Homo sapiens: one gene and its partners. The protein of the gene in region 2 interacts with the protein of the main gene of each other region in a biochemical or structural test. Each region holds a gene or a part of one and is shown on either strand. Other genes may lie near its edges. The genes, in order: PAX3, IPO13 and NOSIP.

Region 1 (7,105 bases), on a different chromosome or scaffold from region 2:
GGAAAAGCACAAGTTGCAGATTTAACTTGATTTTTCAGCTCCTTTTTCAAACATCGCTTTTTTAGTTTCGTTTTCATGTTGGTTCTGTGTAAGCAGTTGCCTTATTTCCAGGGATGAGAAAGTATAACCCCACCCTACCCCCATCAAGATGTTATAATTCTTCTGAATTTATCCCGGTTGTCTGGGGCTTGTCTGGGGAAGTTAGAGGCTTCCCAGGCTGCTCCGGGATGGGATGGGATGTGTTCTGGTCTGCCCCTTTCTAAAGTGCCTCAGAGAGTTCAGGTCTTTTTGCTCACAAAGGGGGACCGTCCCAGAGGATTCAGCGAGGAGCATCCCGACAGGCCCAGAGGCGGTGGGGCCGCCGCCACCTGGCCCAGGGTACCGGGTACCAACGCCTGCCCGCCTGTTCTCTTAAAGCAGGTGACAACGCCTGACGTGGAGAAGAAAATTGAGGAATACAAAAGAGAGAACCCGGGCATGTTCAGCTGGGAAATCCGAGACAAATTACTCAAGGACGCGGTCTGTGATCGAAACACCGTGCCGTCAGGTACTAGGCCCATTAACCTCTCCCCGAGGCGCGACAGTCAGTCGCTATTACCCCGGCACGTCGACCCAGACGTAATCACCCCAATTATCGATCTCAGCTATTGGGAGGTGGCCTCTCCCGAGGCCCTGCAATATTTGCCAACCCGGTGTTCTTGGCACTTTATGGAGGGAGGGGTGAGCTGCTTGTCCTGGGGACGGAGGGTGGCGAGACCACCGCTGAGGACGCCCCAAAGAAGATTTCTGTCGAGGAGGCAGGGCAGGAAACGTGAGGCGGAGGCAGAGCGTTTATTAATATTGATGTTCCCTTTTAAAGAGAAACAAATGTTTTGGTAACCCCAACCGAAGGGAGATGGGGCCCGCGCCGGGAGGGACTTTGCCGTGTGCGCAAAGCCGTGGAGGCTTCCACAACGGCCCCGATTTCCTCCGAGAGTCTCAGGGACGGTCCGGAGCCCCCCGCCACGGCAGCCTGGGGGAGGCGGAGGGAGAAGAGGGGCAAGCACGGGGCCAGCGAGAGGGCGCACGGGAGGGTTTGTTTTTAATTAAAAGGAAACTCCCTTTTTCCCTCTGTGAGAAACATATTTCAGAGCATGGATTTGTTTACCAGACTGGAATCTGGAAAAAATAAGTGGGAGAGAGTGCATTTTCTTTTGATTTTTACAATAGGAAACGATTCTGCAGTTGAAATTTAAACCCTTTATAGCCTTAAAAAAAAAAAAAAAAGGGAAGAAAGGAAAAAAAAGAAACTTGATTTACGGGGGGGTGGGGGGGGGCGCGGACAAGTCGGCTTTGGTTCTTCCTCCCTTAAGGCGAACCGCAGGATCCATGCATTCAGGTGGGGAGGAAGGAGGGTACCCGGTGGGCTGGTGGGAGAATTCTCTTAGATTGCAGACCTAGAGCCCGGTCTTCGGAGTCCAGGAAGGGAAATGCTTCCTGCCCAGAATCGAGGGACAAAGATGGCATCCGGCCCTAACTTGGAGGCACGGTTTTCCCAGCCTCCGTCTTTCAGTACCGAGATACAGATAATAGGGAGGGGGGTTTGAGTGGCAGGATGAGAGGGCTGGAGAAGGATGAGGATGTCCAGAGATGCAGGAGGAGACACCCGCGAGCAGTGCAGGGCAGCGGCTCTAGGGCCCTGGCTGGTGTTTGGGGGTGGGGGGTCCTTCCCGCACAGCCCTGCTTGTCTCAACCATGTGCGCTCCCTTGCTTCCTTCCTCCTCCCGCCCCCAGTGAGTTCCATCAGCCGCATCCTGAGAAGTAAATTCGGGAAAGGTGAAGAGGAGGAGGCCGACTTGGAGAGGAAGGAGGCAGAGGAAAGCGAGAAGAAGGCCAAACACAGCATCGACGGCATCCTGAGCGAGCGAGGTAAGCGGTGGCGCCTTGGGCGGCGCACTTGCTGGGTGACTTGGAGGGCATCGGCTAGCTGACATTGGTGATCTGACGGCAGCCAAGCCCAGCTCGGATCAAGGTCCCTTCATGCGCGGTGTCTCTGCGCCTGAGTAACGACATGGAACTGAAAGACCAGAGGGACACTAGGAATCAAAACAAACATTTCTATTCTGCTTAGTTTTTCTGTTTTGTAAATCTTTCTTTCTTAACCACTTTCAGCCCCTGGGATTCTAGAACTGTGAATTGTGCTCTGTTGTAGGGGGCAGGGGAAGCTCTCACTCTGTTGCCATTAAATGTATGAGACTGGGCATCTCTGAGCAATTGTAGGGCCGGGGATAGAGGGTACTTGAATCTTCAGAAGTTGAAGTAGCTTTTATGCCCTCAGGAAAGGCCCTGGTCTCCGGAGTTTCCTCGCATTAAAGGAGAGAGAGAGAGAGTACTCTTTTGGGCAACGGCCCTCCAAAATTGCCCCCACATTGGCTGCCTTATAAATATGTCTGTGTGTTGACTGGTTTGATTTGTTTGAAGTTGATTTTCAAATGTGAGGGGGTTTAACCTGTGTGTGCCTGGGAATTGAAAGGAACCCAAGCTCTGGGTTACAAATTGAAGGGATCTGGGTTCTTAGAGTGCTGGCACCCTCTGTCTTCTAGGGGTACAGATCCCCATTCCTTTTCGGCTGTGCACTGTCGGCACTAAGAAAAAAAATCTCCCCCATGGGAGACAGAAGTGCAGCTTGCTTCCCCTTCACCTGCCGCAAGCCATCCTCAAACTTTAAGGGTACAAACGCAAAAAGAAAGAAAGAAAGGAAAAGAAATGCTGAACCAGGAAAGGATCATTGCAGCAGGAGACGGCAGGGGGGAGGGGAGGATTGTGTCTCAGTGGCTTTGGCCTTGGGGGTGGTTGCCCCTCTTCAAATGCACAAATGGTCAAGAGTGGCCAGGGGTCCCACTCATGCCTGAAGTTTCCTCACCTGGGACTTGGAGTTCATTGGGCAAAGTTAGTTTTGGAGTTGCCAGAGGGACAGGCGGCTTTCCAGGTGGGCTCACAGCCGTTGCCGACTGTGACTAGCTGGGTCCGAGCCCTTACCAGAGTGGCATCCAAGTGGGACTTCTTTTATCTTCATTGCCCAACTCTGTGGCAGCCAGTGGCTCTCCTGAGCAGCTGCTTTACAAAGCAATGCAAAATCTGCACACAACCTGGAAGGAACATTTAGATTTGGAAGTTACAGATCCAAATGGCTGATTTGAGGGAAAAACAAGTGTAGATACTCTGATGCACACAAGAAATCAAAGACATGTCAAACCACAGCAGGTTGGGCAGGGAGATGCTTCCTTTGCTTTATGACAGAGGCCTCCTATGGACTCAGCCTAAATCCTCTTTTTGGAGAGGTGCATTTTTCTGCCTTGGTCTCTGAGAAGACACCTTGGCTTTTATCCCAGGCCTAGCTGCAGAATAGAGGTGCTGAGAAGGGAGGAAGGCAGGGAGTCAGACAACCCCAAACCAAATGTGCTCCTGTGGGCAGTGGGGAGAAGAGCCCAGAGCAGTCACAGAGGCTGGGGACTCACGGCTTTGCTACTTGTTGCTGGAGGCTCCGGCGCTGGCAGACTGGCTGCTCTCTCGCAGTACAGGCGACTGAGGCCCAGGAGACAAAACGTCCCAAATGAGCTGGTCAAACATTTGTACAACTTTTCCAGCTTTTACAAAGAAGTCCTTCTCTACACAATCTACACTTGGAGATGAACTTGGGAGACAAAGCCTGGAGAGTCCATTGAAACTCACACTTTAGCTCAGCCCAGACAAAGCTCCAGCTCGGAGCAGCTTGATGTGAACAAAGGAAGGCAACCTTTTTATAATTCAAGGAGAAAAGAAGAGAAAACAGCACCACAAAAGGCTGAGAATAGACATTATGGGCTTGCAATGAGGGATGAATTATTCAATGAGCCCCAATAGCTGCTGCGCCGGGAAGTTTTATGGACTCTTCAGCGTGGAAAAAGTGGCCATTTCACCTACAAAATGTTTCTAGTCTTTTGGGCTGTCTAGCTGGGCCGGCTGCTATTCAAGGGCAATTGCTACATTTTTAAAATCAGAGTATTCTCCCCAGTGGGGGCTGTGCTGTTGGAAACACACACACACACACACACACACACACACACACACACACACACACACACACCTTGGAGGCTGAAGCCTGATTTAATTTGGGGTTGTCAAGGAAGATGCAGTGTCTGTCTCTTCAGCATCTCTAGCTCCTTTTTAGATGAGCCTCGGAGGACAAGAGGGGCCCAGAGAAAGGACAGAGTGAGGTGCAGTTTGAAGTCTAGAAACTTCAAAAACTCCTTTCTGTTGTTCGGGCATCAAAAATCCCAGGCTGCCCGCTTGTAAAATAGAATGAATGTTGATAAAGCGTTCTTAGCGCCCTGGCAGAGGGGGAGAAGAAAGCTGAGGGAGGAGGAACTTTGGGGTCCCCTGACCAGTGTGGTGTATTCTTGCCCTTTTCCAGTTAGTGGGTCTGGTGGGTGCTGCTGAGCCTGGCTTTTCAGGGGAATCTTTGGCCTGAGGTCTGCTTGGCAGACACTAGGACAAAAGGGTTGAGCCACTTTGAATGAGGTCAGAATCACCTCATTCTTCTCTCCAGTGGCTTTCTCCCAGATGGTCCTCTTAACTTTCCCAACTTTCCCTTTTCCCTCGCTCAATTCAAGAGCTGAGCCGCTAGCGGTGCTGGTGCGCTCAGGCCCGCGCTCCCTAACGGGCGCGCGCTAAGCATGATGCACCCTTGCTGGATACATCCCTCCAGCTCCATAGCCCAGGAGAAAGGAGAGGGCTGGGCGGTTCACTAACACGAACCCCGCCCGCTATCCCCAATCCCCCTAGCCCCTGGCCCGCGCTGAGACTGGAGCAGAGGCAGCCGGGGGAGCCAAGTCCTGGCCGAGGCATCCGGGGCTGTGGGCACCGCCCTGCGCAGCGGCCGCTCAATGGGCGCCTCTGTTCCTCCCCCGGCTCGGCCTAGCGGGCCCGCGGGCGCCGCCACAATGGGCTGGGCCCCCACTCCTGTGCTCTGCGCCAAAGCGCCGCGCCGCTCCGCCCCCTCCCCTACTCTCTGGCCGGCTCGAAGCTTAGCTCGCCGGGCTGCAGCCGACTCAATTGCCTCCTTTATGTCCTTCTCACTTTCATCTAGACACAGCCCGCCTCCCCCCTTCTTCTCCTCTTTTTTTTTTTCCTCCCTTGCCTGAGGCTCACATTAGTGAAATTTCTGCAACCTCCCCCCATTTTTTTCTTATTTTAAAGAAAGCCCTTAACACAAAAGCGGTGACTAATCAATAGAAACTGCCCCTTCATCATCTCCTCCTCCTCCTCCACCCCTCCTTCTCCCCCTCCAGCAGGGTGACGCTTTTCCTGTTTGTGAGTTTTGGGAAACATTTTTGCTTTGTGCAGTAATGGAATTAGAGGACAGTTGAGGACTGTAAATGGACACGCGACTGCAAGACTCTCGCTTAAATATTTAGATGCAAAGTTACAATTACTGACTTGTTGTAGCAGCTTTGAAGTGGCAGCTCCGGAGCGCAGGGGGAGAGAGGCCAGATTGCCAAATTGATGTTTTGATTGGGGACTGGCGATACACTCTCATAAGACTTTCCTCCCTTTTAAAATCACAAGTGAGCGTGGGAGGTTTGCAACAATTTAAAAGATCCCACTAAGAGATCTCAAGCATAGGTCTGTTGGGGGCTTATATTCCTTTCCTATCTGTTCCCTCTTATTTGACGTTTACAAAAAAGAGTGCTTTCTTAAAAAATTGGAGAAAGTAAAAGTGACGAAAGCTTTGCTCAAGTTTCCATTTTATTTGTAAGCTTGTCAGCTTTTGTAAAGTTAACGAGGACGACTTCAGCTTTTTGGGGGGGAGGTAGGAGAAGATTAATCAGTTTAAAACGCAGAAAAGCATTAAAGGTATTTGGAGTATTTTATTTCCAGTGAAATCATGAAAAGAGCACTCTTATCATTAAGGGACTGCTGAAATCAAGGAAAACGAAGGGCCGTTTCTTTCCCGGTTAGTGAGCAGGAAGGGCCATTTTGGTCCAAGGTTGGGAGGAGGGGAAGGCGGGGGACGAACTTTCCCATAGATTAAAATCATTGGGTATAAGATCATAGGTTTATGGCATCGGATCCTTTATTCAAGTGGACAGACCAGCCCACTTTCCAAGTCCATTTGTTAGGATCACGAATTTGACTTCAATGTCGTTTCGATTCTATAGAGAAAACTTCATATTTTCTGAAGTCCTTGCAAAACTCAGCAAAGAAATATCATCCATTTAAAAAATATTGGAAGTATCAGAACTTGAATTCTATTAGAACACCACGCCGTGTTCTATTTATTAATGTCGCGGTAACAATTTTCCTGCTGGAACGATTTGAAAGGAAACACCAGAGTTCAGCTCCTAGCTTTTTCTTTTTCGCTTGTTTGGTTTGGTTGACTGCTGTGTGCTTACCTTCTAGAGCTTTATTGAAAACATGCAGATTTTCTAATTAATGCTTGAAATCGTATGTTTATTTTGGGGTTTGATTTGATTGTTGATAGCACCGGAACCAGGACGTAGGGGCTTCTACTGAGTAATAATTACTGAAGGGTCATTTAAAAGTCCCCAGGGCTGAGCAATAAAACCCACCCGGGCGGTGAGGCGGAACCAGTCAGCGCGCGGCGGTTCAGGCGAGTGGAATATGCAGAAATCGATCACGTGAATAGGAGTGTGGCCGCTAAATCCGAATGGCTTCAGCATCCATGAATGCATATATTTTGAGAACAACAACAAAAAATTCTTCCTATGAGACTAAATGTTTAAGTTGTACATAAGTAGATGGCCAATGAAAATGAAAAGCTGCAACAGTAACAACAAACAAACGGTGAGAAATGAGAGTTTGGCTTGGGCTGGAACAGAAAATGTTTTACGTTCGATTGGATTCTGTATGACAGGTAACTTATCTATGAGGGTAAATAAAGATTAAAGAACCATTTAGAATGTACATATATAACTAACAAGACACTAAAAGGCAATTAAGCAGTCAGTTTAATGTCTTATCTCACTGGCTGCTCTGGGGTTGTTTTACAAGTAGGAATTAAAATCTGAAAAGGAAGTTTTCAGCAGCTCTGGCCAAATATTGATTAAGTAGCTGTTTGTTGATA
Region 2 (7,105 bases):
AATATGGATTCTGGTCCTCAGACGAGAAGGAGCAGTTCCGAATTTACAGGTGATGGTAGCAGGCCAACTCCTCTAAAATGGAGTCCAGAAATAATGAAGGCAATGAGGGAAGGGGCCCAAGTCCAGGCTTTCTGAATTTTGGTGCTCCTTTCTGTTTTCTAGGTATTGTTGCAGAGTTGTGGGGGTACTGGGGTAGGCTCCTGGGCTTGGGGGCAGGATCCAGGGTCAGGATCCAGGCAGTATAAAAGGCCTTCATCTGCTTCTCAGGGTGGACATCTCAGACACGCTCATGTATGTCTATGAGATGTTGGGGGCCGAGCTGCTCAGCAACCTCTATGACAAGCTGGGTCGTTTGCTCACCAGCTCAGAGGAGCCCTACTCCTGGCAGGTACCTCCCAAGCCTGATTCCCTCAGCCTTCCCAGACCTGTCACACCCTCCTCCTCATCCAAGCCAGTGGCACCCTCTTTCCCCAGCACACAGAGGCCCTCCTCTACGGCTTCCAATCCATCGCAGAGACCATTGACGTCAACTATTCTGATGTGGTGCCTGGGCTCATTGGCCTCATCCCACGGATCAGCATCAGCAACGTGCAGCTGGCAGACACTGTCATGTTCACCATTGGTGAGACCTGGCACACACCCATGACCATATTCCCAGAGCCACAGCACCCAACCCTGGCCACAGCCAGCATGCTGGATCCTATCCAGAATGGGAGAGCCACATGCCTACACACAATCAGTGTTGTAACAAACTGACTGTCCTGGCAGGTCTAGGGGGTCCATCTGATGGCACACTGAGCTGCAATTCAGTGAGGCTAGTTTACCGTCAGTGAAACAGCAGTACTGGGCCTCTGTTGAGTAACCCCTTCCTGCTTCTCAGCTGTAAGGCTCATGTTTGAGCATGCACATGCATATGTCCTCTGAATGGGGCAGTACTCTGTGCTGGGGCTGCAACTTGACCCTGCCAGGAACTCTGCTTGCCTCAGAGACATGGTACAAAGCCAGCCTGGCCTGCCTCAAAGATCCTCCTGTCTCCCTCCTTCCTCCAGGAGCTCTGTCTGAATGGCTGGCTGACCACCCCGTCATGATCAACAGTGTTCTGCCCTTGGTACTGCATGCCCTAGGCAATCCTGAGCTGTCTGTCTCTTCTGTGTCCACCCTCAAGAAGATCTGCCGAGAGTGCAAGTATGACCTGCCTCCCTATGCTGCCAACATTGTGGCTGTGTCCCAGGTATGCAGGGGCCCTGGATGGTGCTGGGCCTCAGAGCACACTCTGCACTGTGCTGATACTACATTCCTTCTTTCTCCCCTCAGGATGTGCTGATGAAACAGATCCACAAGGTGCGGCTCAAAAGTTTCTAGGGGTCTCCTTGGAGGTCTTGTGGGAATCACTTATCCCTGAAATCCTGTTTTTTGGCCTTCCCCTTCCTCTTATCCCTTATTCTCTGTTTTTCTTCTCCCAAGAGGCTCATTTTCCTTCCTACCCCACAACTAGATGTGGCCAGGACTGACCATCCATGTTCTGCCCCACAGACAAGCCAGTGCATGTGGCTGATGCAGGCGCTGGGCTTCCTGCTGTCAGCTCTTCAAGTGGAGGAGATCCTTAAGAACCTGCACTCGCTTATCTCACCCTATATCCAGCAACTGGAGAAGCTGGCAGAGGAGATAGTGAGTGAGCTCTGGGGGCCAGGGAGCGGTACTGAGATGCTGTGGCTGATGAGGGGTGAGGTTGGAGCTGGCCCTCAGAGCTGAGGCTCAGTGATCTGGGGACCAAACTGGGGCTGGGAGATCTGGAGCTTGGTTTGCTTCTCCCTGCAGCCCAATCCCTCCAACAAGCTGGCCATTGTTCACATCTTGGGGCTTCTCTCCAACCTCTTCACCACACTGGACATCAGTCATCATGAGGATGATCATGAAGGCCCTGAGCTTCGGAAGCTGCCAGTGCCACAGGGACCCAACCCCGTGGGTGACATTTGCCCACGGCAAAGACATTTGTCTTTGCCATCCCCCCAACCCCCACCTGTGGGAATGTCATTGTCACTCTTCAATTCTGTGGGTAATGTTGTCATTGTTCTCCCTGCCCCGTGGGCGTGATATATTTGGTCCTCTGACTCCATGAATGACCTATAATTGCCTCACTCTGTAGGCAGCAATGTCATTATCTCACTCAGCTCTGTGTGTGATGTTGTCCTTGTCCCCAGCCCAATTAGGGTGATGTCATTGAGATTCCTCAGCCCCATGAGGGACATTGACGTTATATCCTTCAACCCTTAAGTGATTTTATGGGCCCCTGTTCAACCCCTAGCTCTGTAGGGCCTTCTACTTCAACATTTACTGTCCCCTGTGGGCACTAAGGATGCTCATTACCTCCTCCGCATGTAATAGTTCTGGCCTTCAAGTTGCTCCCAGTGTAGAGGAAATTCAGGTTGCTCAAATTGTCACAAAGCAGTGTGATAAGTCCTGTGGTAAGCTTGGGCATAGGTTTTGGGGTGACCACTTACAAGCTGCTTGATCTGGGGCAAGCCTCAGCTTCCCATTAAAAACTATGAACATTGAAATGTCTGGCTTACTCAATTCATAGAACTGTGCTGGATAGTAGATGTGGTCTTAAGTGAAGGTAGTTTGCATATTGTAAAGTTCTTTACAAATATAAGGGACTGCTTTAGTCGTTGTTCCCAGAACTCCCTCCCAGATTTCTCCAGGAGAAAAGGAAGCCATAGGCATCCTGGCCTCTCTGCTTAACTCCCCAACCCAGTTTCAGTTAGCCTCTTGGCTTTAGACCACCCCTGGGCCACTGTCATCCCACAGAGCTGCTTCTTTACATGGTAGTCATCATCCTGCCTTTCCTCACCTCCCAGGACCTCAGTCTGCTCTCTGCTCCTCCATAAGCTGGGAGAGCAGCTTAAGCCTGCATCTGTGCATTCCTTGGGGCTCCCTACCTCAAGCCTATTTGGAGGAGATAGCATCTCCACTTCTTCAGAGGCTAGCCCATAGCCTTGGTTTTACAGAGCAGAGATAGGGAGAGATTTTTTTTTAAGTTTACAAAGTTTTTGTAACCTTATGAAGCACTTGTGATATCTCTGCTTTGCAGTTTGAGGCTTCCTTTGAGATGATCCCTAGAATTCAGGAAATACTCCTTTTTCATTCATGAGAGAGTTCAGCAAACCACTTCTTCCCCCAGGGGTCCCATGCCCTGGGTCCTCAATGTGTGTTCTGGGGTAATAGGTCTGAACTGCTCCCCTCCTCCCTGCCACCAAGTCCTCCTCAAGTGGGTCACAGTGATGGATAGCAGAAGCGCCTCACTTCTTCCTGTGCCTTCAGGTGGTGGTGGTGCTGCAGCAGGTCTTCCAGCTTATCCAGAAGGTGCTGAGCAAATGGTTGAATGATGCCCAGGTTGTGGAGGTGAGCCCTGACCCTTGCCCTCCGCTCCCATAGTGACTGCTCAGAGGTGTAGCAGGGTAAGATGTTACTGCCACACTTCAGCTTACAATGGTTTGGAGAAAACAAGGGAGGTGAATCCTGCCCCATAGAGATAAGGAATCTTTTGGGAAGACATTTAGAACTCCCCAATATCATGAGAAGTGCTTAACGTAAGGACTCTAATATTAGGGTCGAGTGACAGTCAGGCATCTGTTTTAGCACCAAAGACCTGCCTTTGGTCCCTTTTCAATTCAGGTTTTTGTTGCTGTTGCTGCTCCCTGAGAGGAAATGTTAGAGATGTAAGTCGCAGGAGTTAAGTTCCACAGTTACATCCTGTGCCCCTCAGTGAAGGGCCTTTGCCCCCTGCCTTTCAGGGTGAGGGTCAGACTTGCTTACCTTCCTTGGTTTGCAGGGCCAGGCAAGGCTTATAGGTAAGGGCCCAATCGTAGGCCCCCTCTGTGCAGGGCTTCAGCGCTGTTCCAGCCAGTCATGACCTGCTGACCAGGGCCCCTTTGCTTTCTTCCCAAGGCGGTGTGCGCTATCTTTGAGAAGTCTGTTAAGACGCTGCTGGATGACTTTGCCCCCATGGTGCCACAGCTGTGTGAGATGCTGGGTCGGATGTACAGCACCATCCCCCAGGCCTCTGCTCTTGACCTCACTCGACAGGTGGGCCTTCTGGTTGGGGCAGAGATCCTGACCCTGGGTGGGGGTGGGTCAGATGGCTGCCGTGGCTGGGGTCCCCACTTGCATTCCAGGGATATTGCCATGTCCTGGTGAGACTGGGTCTCAGCTGACCAGCATTCCCTGCTTTCTCGTAGCTGGTCCACATCTTTGCTCATGAGCCTGCCCACTTTCCCCCAATTGAGGCCCTCTTCCTGCTCGTCACCTCCGTCACACTCACTCTCTTCCAGCAAGGTAGGTCCTGACCGGGGTCTCTGCTGCTGCTGCCACTGCCACTGCCTCTGCTTCCCCAAATGGGGAGCCAAAGCTGCCCACTCTGTTCTTCTCTGTCCCCTGAGTCACACGTGGGACTTGATGGGAAACCTGTGAGATCAAGCACAACACCTTATAAATAGTTGAAACTTTAGGTTGAAGTGGATAAGAGGGTGAATGATGTCTTCTGCTGGCCTGCTGGGCTCAGGGCCAGTCTGGATATGGAAGAAGGAAGTGGGGGTGGGAGGTGGGCAGAGGCTCTGAGGGGCTTGGGGCACTAGGCTGGCTCCTTTACTTTGGGATATAATGAAAAGTGGAAAGAGCACGGGCTTTTGAAGTCAGCTAGACCTAGATTCTAAGTTCATCACCACCAACTAGTTGTGTGTCCTTGGGCAAGTCACTTACCTTTGCTGGGCCTTCATTTCCATATCTGTGAAACGGAGATAACATATACTTGAAATGATTGTTTACAGGTATTAAAGTCACATCTTCTGGGCCCTTGGCTCAGGGGCTTTTGCACAGTGAAGTACTCAGAGACTGTTGGTTCCTTTCCCTGCATCAAGGCTTAGTACTTTCTAGGCCAGAAGTCAAGTACCTTTGGCTGTGGTCCTAGCCCTCTACTCACTGTGGCCCTTTGCCTGAGAGAGTTGGCAGCAGGGGCTTCATTCAGGCTTCTCGTGTTGTCTAATCCAGGCTTCCAGTTTGGAGAAACAAAAACAAAAAAACAGCACTGCTCAGCTAGCCTCATGAGCCTTGCCTGGATTCATGGTCACAGGTTTGAGGCTCACCAGGGGTCTCGGTTGGTGCCCAGAGTACTCGCAGCTCATATCCTCAGTGCCTGGTCTCATGATCCTGGCCTCTGTTTCTGTGGGCCATGGAGTAGGTCCAAACTGGGGAGAAAACTGAACCAGAAACCTGGTGTGGTCATCCTCAACTCCACCTCTCCCAACTCCCTGTACCCAATCTGGGACAAGCCCCATTGATCCTGACTCCTGATTCTCTCTCGGTTGGTCCACTTCTACCCACCTCCGTGGCCACTGCCTCAGTTTAGGGTCTCACCTGGATTATCAGCAACCTTCTAGTGGGTTTTCTTGGCATCTCCCCTTCTCTCCAATCTGTTCTGCACACTGCAGCTATAATCTTCATAAAAACACAAATCTGAGCATTTGTCATCCCGGGCTTAAAACCCTTTCATTGTTCCCATTGCCCTCAGCTTATTGTTCCATTCCCACCCACATGACAAGGCTCTGGCATGCCTCTAATGTCCTCTCCTGCCAATGTCCTCATGACTCCAACATTTCAGCCACACTGCCTCTTCCTTACCGTGTCCCATTTGATCCCTGTGCCTTGCTCCTCTGACTGGAATGTCCTATGCCCTTTACTGGGTGAACTCTCACTCCTTCATGCCTTAGAAAGGAGGAAGACTGCATCACTTCTCAGAGTAATTTCTCTCTGAGGCAGAATTGGGTGCTTCTAACTGTACTGAAACTGCATCCCATACACACTGCTGACACAGCACTGATCACACACAATAATCAGCTTTCATGTCTGTCTCTCTTACTAGACTTAAGCCCCTCAAGGGTAGGGTTGAGTTTCTTCTCTCTGCATCCCCAGTGCCCAGAATGAGGCCAGAATACAGCAGGCCACAGACACTGTTAAATAAAGGAGGGGGAGGGCTCCCTGCCCTTGGAACCTTTCCTTCTCATTTTCTGGCCCACCTCTAGCAGGGTGGCTGCTGAATATCAAACCTGCATGGTGCACACTGGGCCTCACTTTCTAGGACTTAAATAACTCAGGGTTCAGATACCAAAGGGACAGACTTTATTGGTGACTCTTCATAGCCTAGAGAAGGAAGCAGGGCAGAGATTATCTGCTTTACAGATGGGGAAACTGAGCATTTGTGGCTTGCGCAAGATCACACAGCTACTTAGTGGTGTCTTAGGCAGATGGTTTTGTACCACATCCTCCTGAGAGTGGAGAAGCCTGGGTAGGAGCTCCAGGTGCATGCCATATTCTTGCCTCAGGAATGATCAGAACTGGAGGCAGCAGTGTCCAACATCATATACGTTGGGCTTGTTGGTTGTCTCGCTGGACAGGATGGCTCCCATACCTGTTATGCCATCCCAATCTTAGCCATTCCTTCCTCGGGCTCTGCCTTCCCACTGGACCATAGGATGACATGTTTCTTGTTTCCCTGTTTCTTGGCATGTCCAGATGATGGGAACTAGTCCTCAGCCCTGAGCTTGGCTCTCTGCAGAGTCCATGTCCATGTGGAGGAGGTTTGCTGGGGTGGGGCTCTTGTTTTTGGCCTTATGATACTGTTTCCTCCTCTGGGCCCTGCCAGTGACTTGCCAGGCCATCTCCAGAGCATGCTGGGCACTGCCCTACCTAAGCAAGAGTCCTGTGGTTTAAGTGGACTGAATAGATTATTTTCCTTTGCCAGACCAAGAGCCCTAAGGCCATTGAAGTGAGGTGGCACTTACTCAGGCTCTGATGCCCTGGCCTTTCTAGGGCCCTCAGATAAACCTCAAAAGGAGATACCAAGGACTGACTCCCCCACCCCCCCACCGCCATCCCAGCTTTCCTCTTCAATGACTGGCTGATGGGAGGTATGTGCTAGGAGCAGTGTAGGGCTACCCCAACCTGCCAGAGGCCACAGTAAGTGTGGTGGCCGTTTCTTCAGCTATATGGAGTCCAGAATTGCTCAAGTACCAAGGGAACATGAGGGGATGGCCTGAGGAGGAGTGGGGAG
Region 3 (7,105 bases), on a different chromosome or scaffold from region 2:
TACCCAAGATATACTTCTTTTCTTTTTTTTTCTTTTTTTGAGACAGAGTCTTGCTCTGTCACCCAGGCTGGAGTGCAGTGGCGTGATCTCGGCTCCCAGGTTTGAGCGACTCTCCTGCCTCAGCCTCCCGACTAGCTGGGGCTACAGGCATGCGCTACCACGCCTAGCTAATTTTTGTATTTTTAGTAGAGATGGGGTTTCGCCATGTTGGCCAGGATGGTCTCGATTTCTTGACCTCATGATCCGCCCGCTTTGGCCTCCCAAAGTGCTGGGATTACAGGCATGAGCCACCGCGCCCCGCCTGCATGGATGTATGTTTTTATTTCTATTGGCAGTGGAATTGCTGGGTCAAAAGGTGACTATTTAACCTTTTGAGAAACTGTGACTTTTCCAGAATGGCTGTACCATTTTACATTTCTACCACCAATGTATAAGGGTTCCAGTTTCTCCATATCCACACCAGCACTTATTATTTATCTTTTTGATTATAGTCATTCTAGGGGGTGTGAACTGGTGTCTTTTAACATGCTTATTGGCCATTTGTAGATCTTTGAAGAACTGTCTATTCCAATCCTTTACCCATTTTCAAATTGTGTTAGGTGTCCTTTCATTATTGAGTTGTAAGTTTTTAATATATTCTCACTGCAATTCCCTTATCAGATATCCTGATTTTTTTTTTTTTTTTTTTTTTTTTGAGACAGAGTTTCACTCTTGTTGCCTAGGCTGGAGTGCAATGGTGCGATCTTGGCTCATCACGACCTTCGCCTCCCAGGTTCAAGTGATTGTCCCATTTCAGCCTCCCGAGTAGCTGGGATTACAGGTATGCACCACCACGCCCAGCTAATTTTGTATTTTTAGTAGAGATGGGGTTTCTCCATGTTGGTCAGGCTGGTCTCGAATTCCCAACCTCAGGTGATCCGCCCACCTCGGCCTCCCAAAGTGCTGGGATTACAGGTGTGAGCCACCTCACCTGGCATTTTTTTTTTTTTCCCCAGAGACAAGGTCTCACTCTGTCACTCAGTCTGGAGTGCAGTGGTGCAGTGGCACGATCATAACTCACTGCAGCCTCAACCTCCTGGGATCAAGTGATCCTCCTGCCTCAGCCTCCCAAGTAGCTGGGACCACAGGCGCATGCCACTATGCCCGGCTAATTTTTTAAATTTTGTTTTGTGGAGATGGAGTCTTGCTATGTTGCCCATAGCAAGTTCAAGTCTGGTCTCAAAAACCATGCTGCTGCTGCTTTTTTTTGGTAGAGACAGGGTTTTGGCATGTTGCTCAGGCTGGTCTTGAACTCGTGAGTTCAAGTGATCCTCCTGCCTTTGCCTCCCAAAGCACCCTATCCAGGTATGAGCCACAACAGCCAGGAGATATCTGACTTTTGTAACTGCTACCTGTTTTTGTTCAGCCTGCAAACTAAAAATGGTTTTTAACATTTTTTTTTTATAAGATGGAGTCTCGCTCTGTCGCTCAGGCTGGAGTGCAGTGGCGTGATCTCCGCTCACTGCAAGCTCCACCTCCCGGGTTCATGCCATTCTCCTGCCTCAGCTTCCGGAGTAGCTGGGACTACAGGCGCCCGCCACCACGCCCGGCTAATTTTGTTTTTGTATTATTAGTAGAGACGGGGTTTCACCGTGTTAGTCAGGATGGTCTCAATCTCCTGACCTCACGATCTGCCCGCCTTGGCCTCCCAAAGTGCTGGGATTACAGGCGTGAGCCACTGCGCCTGGCCTGGTTTTTAACGTTTTTACATAACTGGAAAAAACCAAAAGAATGAATTTGGTGACCTATGACAATTATATGTGATTCCGTGTCAGAGTCTAAAAGTAAAGTTTTATTGGAACACAGCCATGCCCGTTTGTGTGTCTGTGGCTGCTTTTATGCTACAGGGGCTGAGTGGAGTACTTACAGGGGCTGTTTGGCCTGCAAAGTTCAAAACATTTACTCTCTGGCCCTTTTTTGTTATTCCCTGCTATATCCTCTGACTTCCTAGAATCAGGAAATTGAATGTAAAGACTTGATTAAATTTCCATTCAGCTGTCAGGTGATTACTTCAGAGCTGGTCGCTTCATGTTGCATACTGCCTGGGTGCCCCATTTTCAGGGGTAGTGAAATTCATTCAGGCTCAGGCAGCATTATAGACTGAATGTCCCCCCCAGATTCGTATATTGAAGCCCTAATTCCCCAAGGTGATTATATTTGGAGGTAGGGCCTTTGTGGAGATAATTAAGGTGAAAGAGTGGGGCCCTAATCTGATGGATTGGTGTCCTTATAATAGGAGGAGGCTGCGCATGGTGGCTCATGCCTATAATCCCAGCACTGTGGGAGGCCAAGGCAGGTGGATCACATGAGATCAGGAGTTCAAGACCAGCCTGGCCAACATGGTGAAACTCTGTCTCTACTAAAAATACAAAAATGAGGCCGGGCGCAGTGGCTCACGCCTGTAATCCCAGCACTTTGGGAGGCCGAGGTGGGCAGATCACGAAGTCAGGAGATAGAGACCATCCTGGCTAACGTGGTGAAACCCCCTCTCTACTAAAAATACAAAAAAATTAGCCGGGCATGGTGGCGGGCGCCTGTAGTCCCAGCTACTCGGGAGGCTGAGGCAGGAGAATGGCATGAACCCTGGAGGCAGAGCTTGCAGTGAGCCGAGATCACGCCACTGCACTCCAGCCTGGGTGACAGAGCGAAACTCCGTCTCAAAAAAAAAAAAAAAAAATTAGCCAGGCATGGTGGTGGACGCCTGTAATCCCAGCTACTTAGGAGGCTGAAGCAGGAGATTCACTTGGGCCTGGGAGGCGAGATCCGCCGCTGCACTCCAACCTAGGTGACAAAGTGAGACTCCTCCCAAAAAACAGAAGGAGACACCAGAGAGCTTTCTCTCTGCCACTGAAGATAGCCATCTGCAAACCAGGAAGAGGGTGTCACCAGAACCCCACAATGCTGGTAGCCTGAACTTAGACTTCCAGCCTCAGGAACTGGAGAAAATAGGTCTGTTGTTTAAGCCACCCAGAGTGGTGTTTTGTTATGGCAGCTGGAGCAGACTGAGACAGGTGGCAGCCATCGAAAACCGCATTGTAAAGCTACAACTGTGTATTTTCCAGTAGCAAGAATTAGCATCCTGTGACTATCCAGGCCCCATCAGCCTCTCCTTTAATGCCATCCATCAACAATCATTGCCTGAGTCAGCTATTTCACCAGAGGTTGCAAAATGGCAGTTTTCCTATTCTCCCATTTCTCTTACACTTAGTCTGAATAATTTGGTTTTTGTCTTGAGTCATGTCCAAGAAGCAGTTGAAGAGAGTGACTTAATCAAACTTCCATTCTGAAAAGCCCCCCTGAGGCTGGTTTGTCAAGGAATAGACTGAGGAAGAGGCCAATTTCTCCAAGCTTCAATTTTCCTACCTATTAAATGAGCAAGACTGGGCGCGGTAGCTCATGCCTGTAATCCCAGCACTTTGGGAGGCCGAGGTAGTAGATCACCTGAGGTCAGGAGTTCAAGACCCAGCCTGGCCAACATGGTGAAACCCCGTCTCTACTAAAAATACAAAAAAAGTATCTAGGCATGGTGGTGTGTGCTTGTAATCCCAGCTACTTGGGAGGCTGAGGCAGGAGAATCACTTGAACCTGGGAGGTGGAGGTTGCAGTGAGTCAAGATCGTGCCACTGCACTCCAGTCCGGGTGACAGAGTGAGACTCCGTCTCCAAAAAAAAAAAAAAAAAAATACTTCAGTCCTGGTGACAGTGAGACTGTCTCCAAAATAAATACATACATACATACATACATACATAAAATAAAATAAATGGGCAGAACGTGGGGAGGTTGTCATGAGGACCGAATGTGTTCACATGTGGAAAGTGCTTCCCACAAGGTCTGATTCTTAAGGGGTTGAAGGATGTGATGATTACTTCTGTTCTTCCAGTGCTTCTGTGATTCACATGTTACTAATGAATTATTAGTGTATTAATGGCATGATGTCATGGCTGCATGGTTAGTTCATTGCTAACCCACCTCCCCTGGCCCTAGGATTGGAGGTGGTTCATTGATTCTATCATGACATCTCTGAGACCTCCCAGGTGCCAGGCAATGCTGGGACCCAGGCTGAAGTTCAACCCAGGCCCCACCAACCAGGGCCCCTACTCTGGAGCCGAAATACCGAGGGACGGGCTGTAACGGAGGTAGCTCAGGGCACGGTCAAGTGCAAGGAGAACCTAACTGATCCCGGAGAGGCAGGCTTCTTGGAGGAGGCAAACCTTGGCAGTGCTCTGGAGGAGAAAGGAGACAGGATTTCAGGGGAGGACAAGACACACACTAGCTGTCTGATCCACTCCCAGAGTTCAGCACAGTGCCTGAGGCCGCCTGCAGCCAGCTGGCACAGTGGATGGTCAAAGCCACAGGTGCTTGGATCAAACACAGCTGTAGGACTCACTAGCTGCATAACCTAGGGCACCGCCTCTGTGCCTCTCTTCATTTATAGCAACTATTTGAGGTGCTGTGATATTCAGTGGAGTGTTGTGATATTCGACCGTTTGAGGTGTTATGATATTCAGTAAAATGCTTAGAGCCAGGGTCTGCTTCAGAGCCGGGCTTTTTTTTTTTTTTTTTTTTTGAGACACAGTCTTGATCTGTTGGCCAGGCTGGAGTGCAGTGGCCCGATCTTGGCTCACTGCAACCTCTGCCCCCAGGTTCAAGCGATTCTCCTGCCTCAGCCTCCCGAGTAGCTGGGACTACAGGCACCTGCCACCACACCCAGCCAATTTTTGCATTTTTAGTAGAGACAGGGTTTCGCCACATTGGCCAGGCTGGTCTTGAACTCCTGACCTCAGGTGATCTGCCCGCCTTGGGCTCCCAAAGTGCTGGGATTACAGGCGTGAGCCACTGCTCCCAGCCATATATATATATATATTTTAAAGTATCTCCAATGAAAATTTAGCATCTGATGGCCAGGCCAATGTGGTGAAACCCCATCTGTGCTAAAAATACAAATATAAAAATACAAAAATGAGCTGGGCATGGTGGCACACGCCTGGAATTCCAGTTACTTGGGAGGCTGAGGCAGGAGAATGGCTTGAGCCCTGGAGGTGGAGGTTGCAGTGAGCCAAGATTGCACTATTTTGCACTCCAGACTGGGCAACAGAGCGAGACTCTGTCTCAAAAAAAAAAAAAAAAAAAAAAGGCTGGGTGCAGTGACTCATGCTTGTAATCCTAGCACTTTGGGAGGCTGAGGCGGGTGGATCACCTGAGGTCAGGAGTTCGAGACCAGCCTGCCCAACATGGCGAAACCCCATCTCTACTAAAAATACAAAAAATTAGCCAGGCATGGTGGCGGGTGCCTGTAATCCCAGCTACCTGGAAGGCTGAGGCAGGAGAATCACTTGAATCGGGGAGGTGAAGGTTGCAGTGAGCCGAGATCACACCACTGCACTCCACCCTAGGTGATAAAAGCGAAACTCCATCTCAAAAAAAAAAGAAAAAAAAAAGAAAATTTAGCATCTGAATTACTGAAATTACTGAGATGTGCTGAAAGAGTAAAATACATTCTGGATTTCAAAGGCTACAAATAAAGGAATGGATTGGCTTTTTTTTTTTTTTTTTTTTGAGACAGAGTCTCACTCTGTCGCCAGGCTGAAGTGCAGTGGTGCGATCTGGGCTCACTGCAACCTCCACCTCCTGGGTTCAAGCGATTCTTCTGCCTCAGCCTCCCGAGCAGCTGGGACCACAGGCGCGCACCAACACACCCAGCTAATTTTTGTATTTTTAGTAGAGATGGGGTTTCACCATGTTGGCCTGGATGGTCTCAACATCTTGACCTTGTGATCCACCCGTCTCAGCCTCCCAGAGTGCTGGCATTACAGGTTTAAGCCACCGTGGCCAGCCTGATTGGCCTTTTTTCTGAGATTGTGACTTTCCTAGGAAAACTGACAGTTGTCACCTAGTTAAAAGGAATGGCTCCAGAGCCTGGCTGCCTGGGTCTGAGTCCCAGCTCTGCCATTTCCCAGCTGGGACATGCTGTGAGCCTGTTTCCTGTGCTGTGAGGTAGGGATTATGCTGACATCGGTCGCTCCTGCTCTTTGCCTGTTTCCTCTCTGAAATGCTGGTGACAGCAGATGGCAGCAGTCTGCTTTGTAGTTTGAAATTGGACCTACCAAAGAGACAATATAGTGTGGGGCAGGAGAGCTCAGCTTTCAGAGTTTGTAAATCCTGAAACTGGCTATTCTTCCACCCTTGGTTGGAGGCGCTCACGCTTTCTGGTCTCAGGATCTTAAAAATCACTGAGTTTTAAAAATCAAAGAGTTTGCCGGGTGCAGTGGTTCATGCCCGTAATCCTTGCACTTTGGGAGGCTGAGGTGGGCGGATCACTTGAGATCAGGAGTTCAGAACTAGCCTGGCCAACATGGTGAAACCCTGTCTCTACTAAAAAATACAAAAAAAAAAAAAAAAAAATTAGCTGGGCGTGGGCGCCTGTTATCTCAGCTACTTGGGAGTCTGAGGCAGGAGAATTGCTTGAACCCAGGAGGTGGAGGTTGCAGTGAGCCGAGATCACACCACTGCACTCCAGCTTCGGCAACAGAGCAAGACTCCATCTCAAAAAAAACAAATTAAATTAAAAAAAGTTTAAATGCTCCCTCTATAGGTGTTCCTCCTATTTTTGGAGGGAAAATGTCCCCATCTATGTAGAAACCTCAGTTCTTGGCCACAAAACAGCAAGCAAGCTCATCTCTGGGAAAGCCGAGGTGCCCAGAGCCAAATACTGCAGAGGGTCAAGGGAGTTGACAACTAAGAATAGAGTGGGGAATGTGTCCATGAAAAGGTCACCGTGACCTTCATGAGTGGCAGTTGTGGGGGCTGGGGAGCGGATGGCAGGTGAGGGGAGGCAACAGGTGTTGGACGTTCACTGAGAAGCTTGGGGGTCAGGGGGAAGTCGGAGGAGGAGCCTGGCATGTGGAGGGGACCCTGGGTCAAGTTGGGGTGTTTGATCAAGGTCGCCCTTCTGCAAGCAGCCCTGGCTGCCTCAGGGGGCACATTGATCGGGAAGGGGCGTGAGGGGGTATTTAGCGTGATAGGAAGGTTCTGTATCTCCATAGGGTCGTGGTCACAAGGGTGTATA

What was found.
Region 1: the proteins of IPO13 (region 2) and PAX3 form a complex in vitro, tested with the Homo sapiens proteins (one study listed by BioGRID).
Region 3: the proteins of IPO13 (region 2) and NOSIP form a complex in vitro, tested with the Homo sapiens proteins (one study listed by BioGRID).

The regions. Positions count from the first base shown.
Region 1 is NC_000002.12:222,288,970-222,296,074, reverse strand, and holds part of PAX3 (paired box protein Pax-3), read left to right. Parts: intron 1-417; coding exon 418-547; intron 548-1,773; coding exon 1,774-1,908; coding exon of another isoform or gene 1,909-1,970; exon of another isoform or gene 1,971-2,317; coding exon of another isoform or gene 2,318-2,352; exon of another isoform or gene 2,353-2,440; intron 2,441-7,105. UniProt on the Homo sapiens protein: Transcription factor that may regulate cell proliferation, migration and apoptosis. Involved in neural development and myogenesis. Transcriptional activator of MITF, acting synergistically with SOX10.
Region 2 is NC_000001.11:43,956,928-43,964,032, forward strand, and holds part of IPO13 (importin-13), read left to right. Parts: coding exon 1-49; intron 50-267; coding exon 268-388; intron 389-474; coding exon 475-622; intron 623-1,049; coding exon 1,050-1,231; intron 1,232-1,314; coding exon 1,315-1,341; intron 1,342-1,533; coding exon 1,534-1,668; intron 1,669-1,818; coding exon 1,819-1,962; intron 1,963-3,321; coding exon 3,322-3,402; intron 3,403-3,948; coding exon 3,949-4,086; intron 4,087-4,238; coding exon 4,239-4,335; intron 4,336-7,105. UniProt on the Homo sapiens protein: Functions in nuclear protein import as nuclear transport receptor. Serves as receptor for nuclear localization signals (NLS) in cargo substrates.
Region 3 is NC_000019.10:49,570,474-49,577,578, reverse strand, and holds part of NOSIP (nitric oxide synthase-interacting protein), read left to right. Parts: intron 1-701; exon of another isoform or gene 702-820; intron 821-2,594; exon of another isoform or gene 2,595-2,988; intron 2,989-7,105. UniProt on the Homo sapiens protein: E3 ubiquitin-protein ligase that is essential for proper development of the forebrain, the eye, and the face. Catalyzes monoubiquitination of serine/threonine-protein phosphatase 2A (PP2A) catalytic subunit PPP2CA/PPP2CB.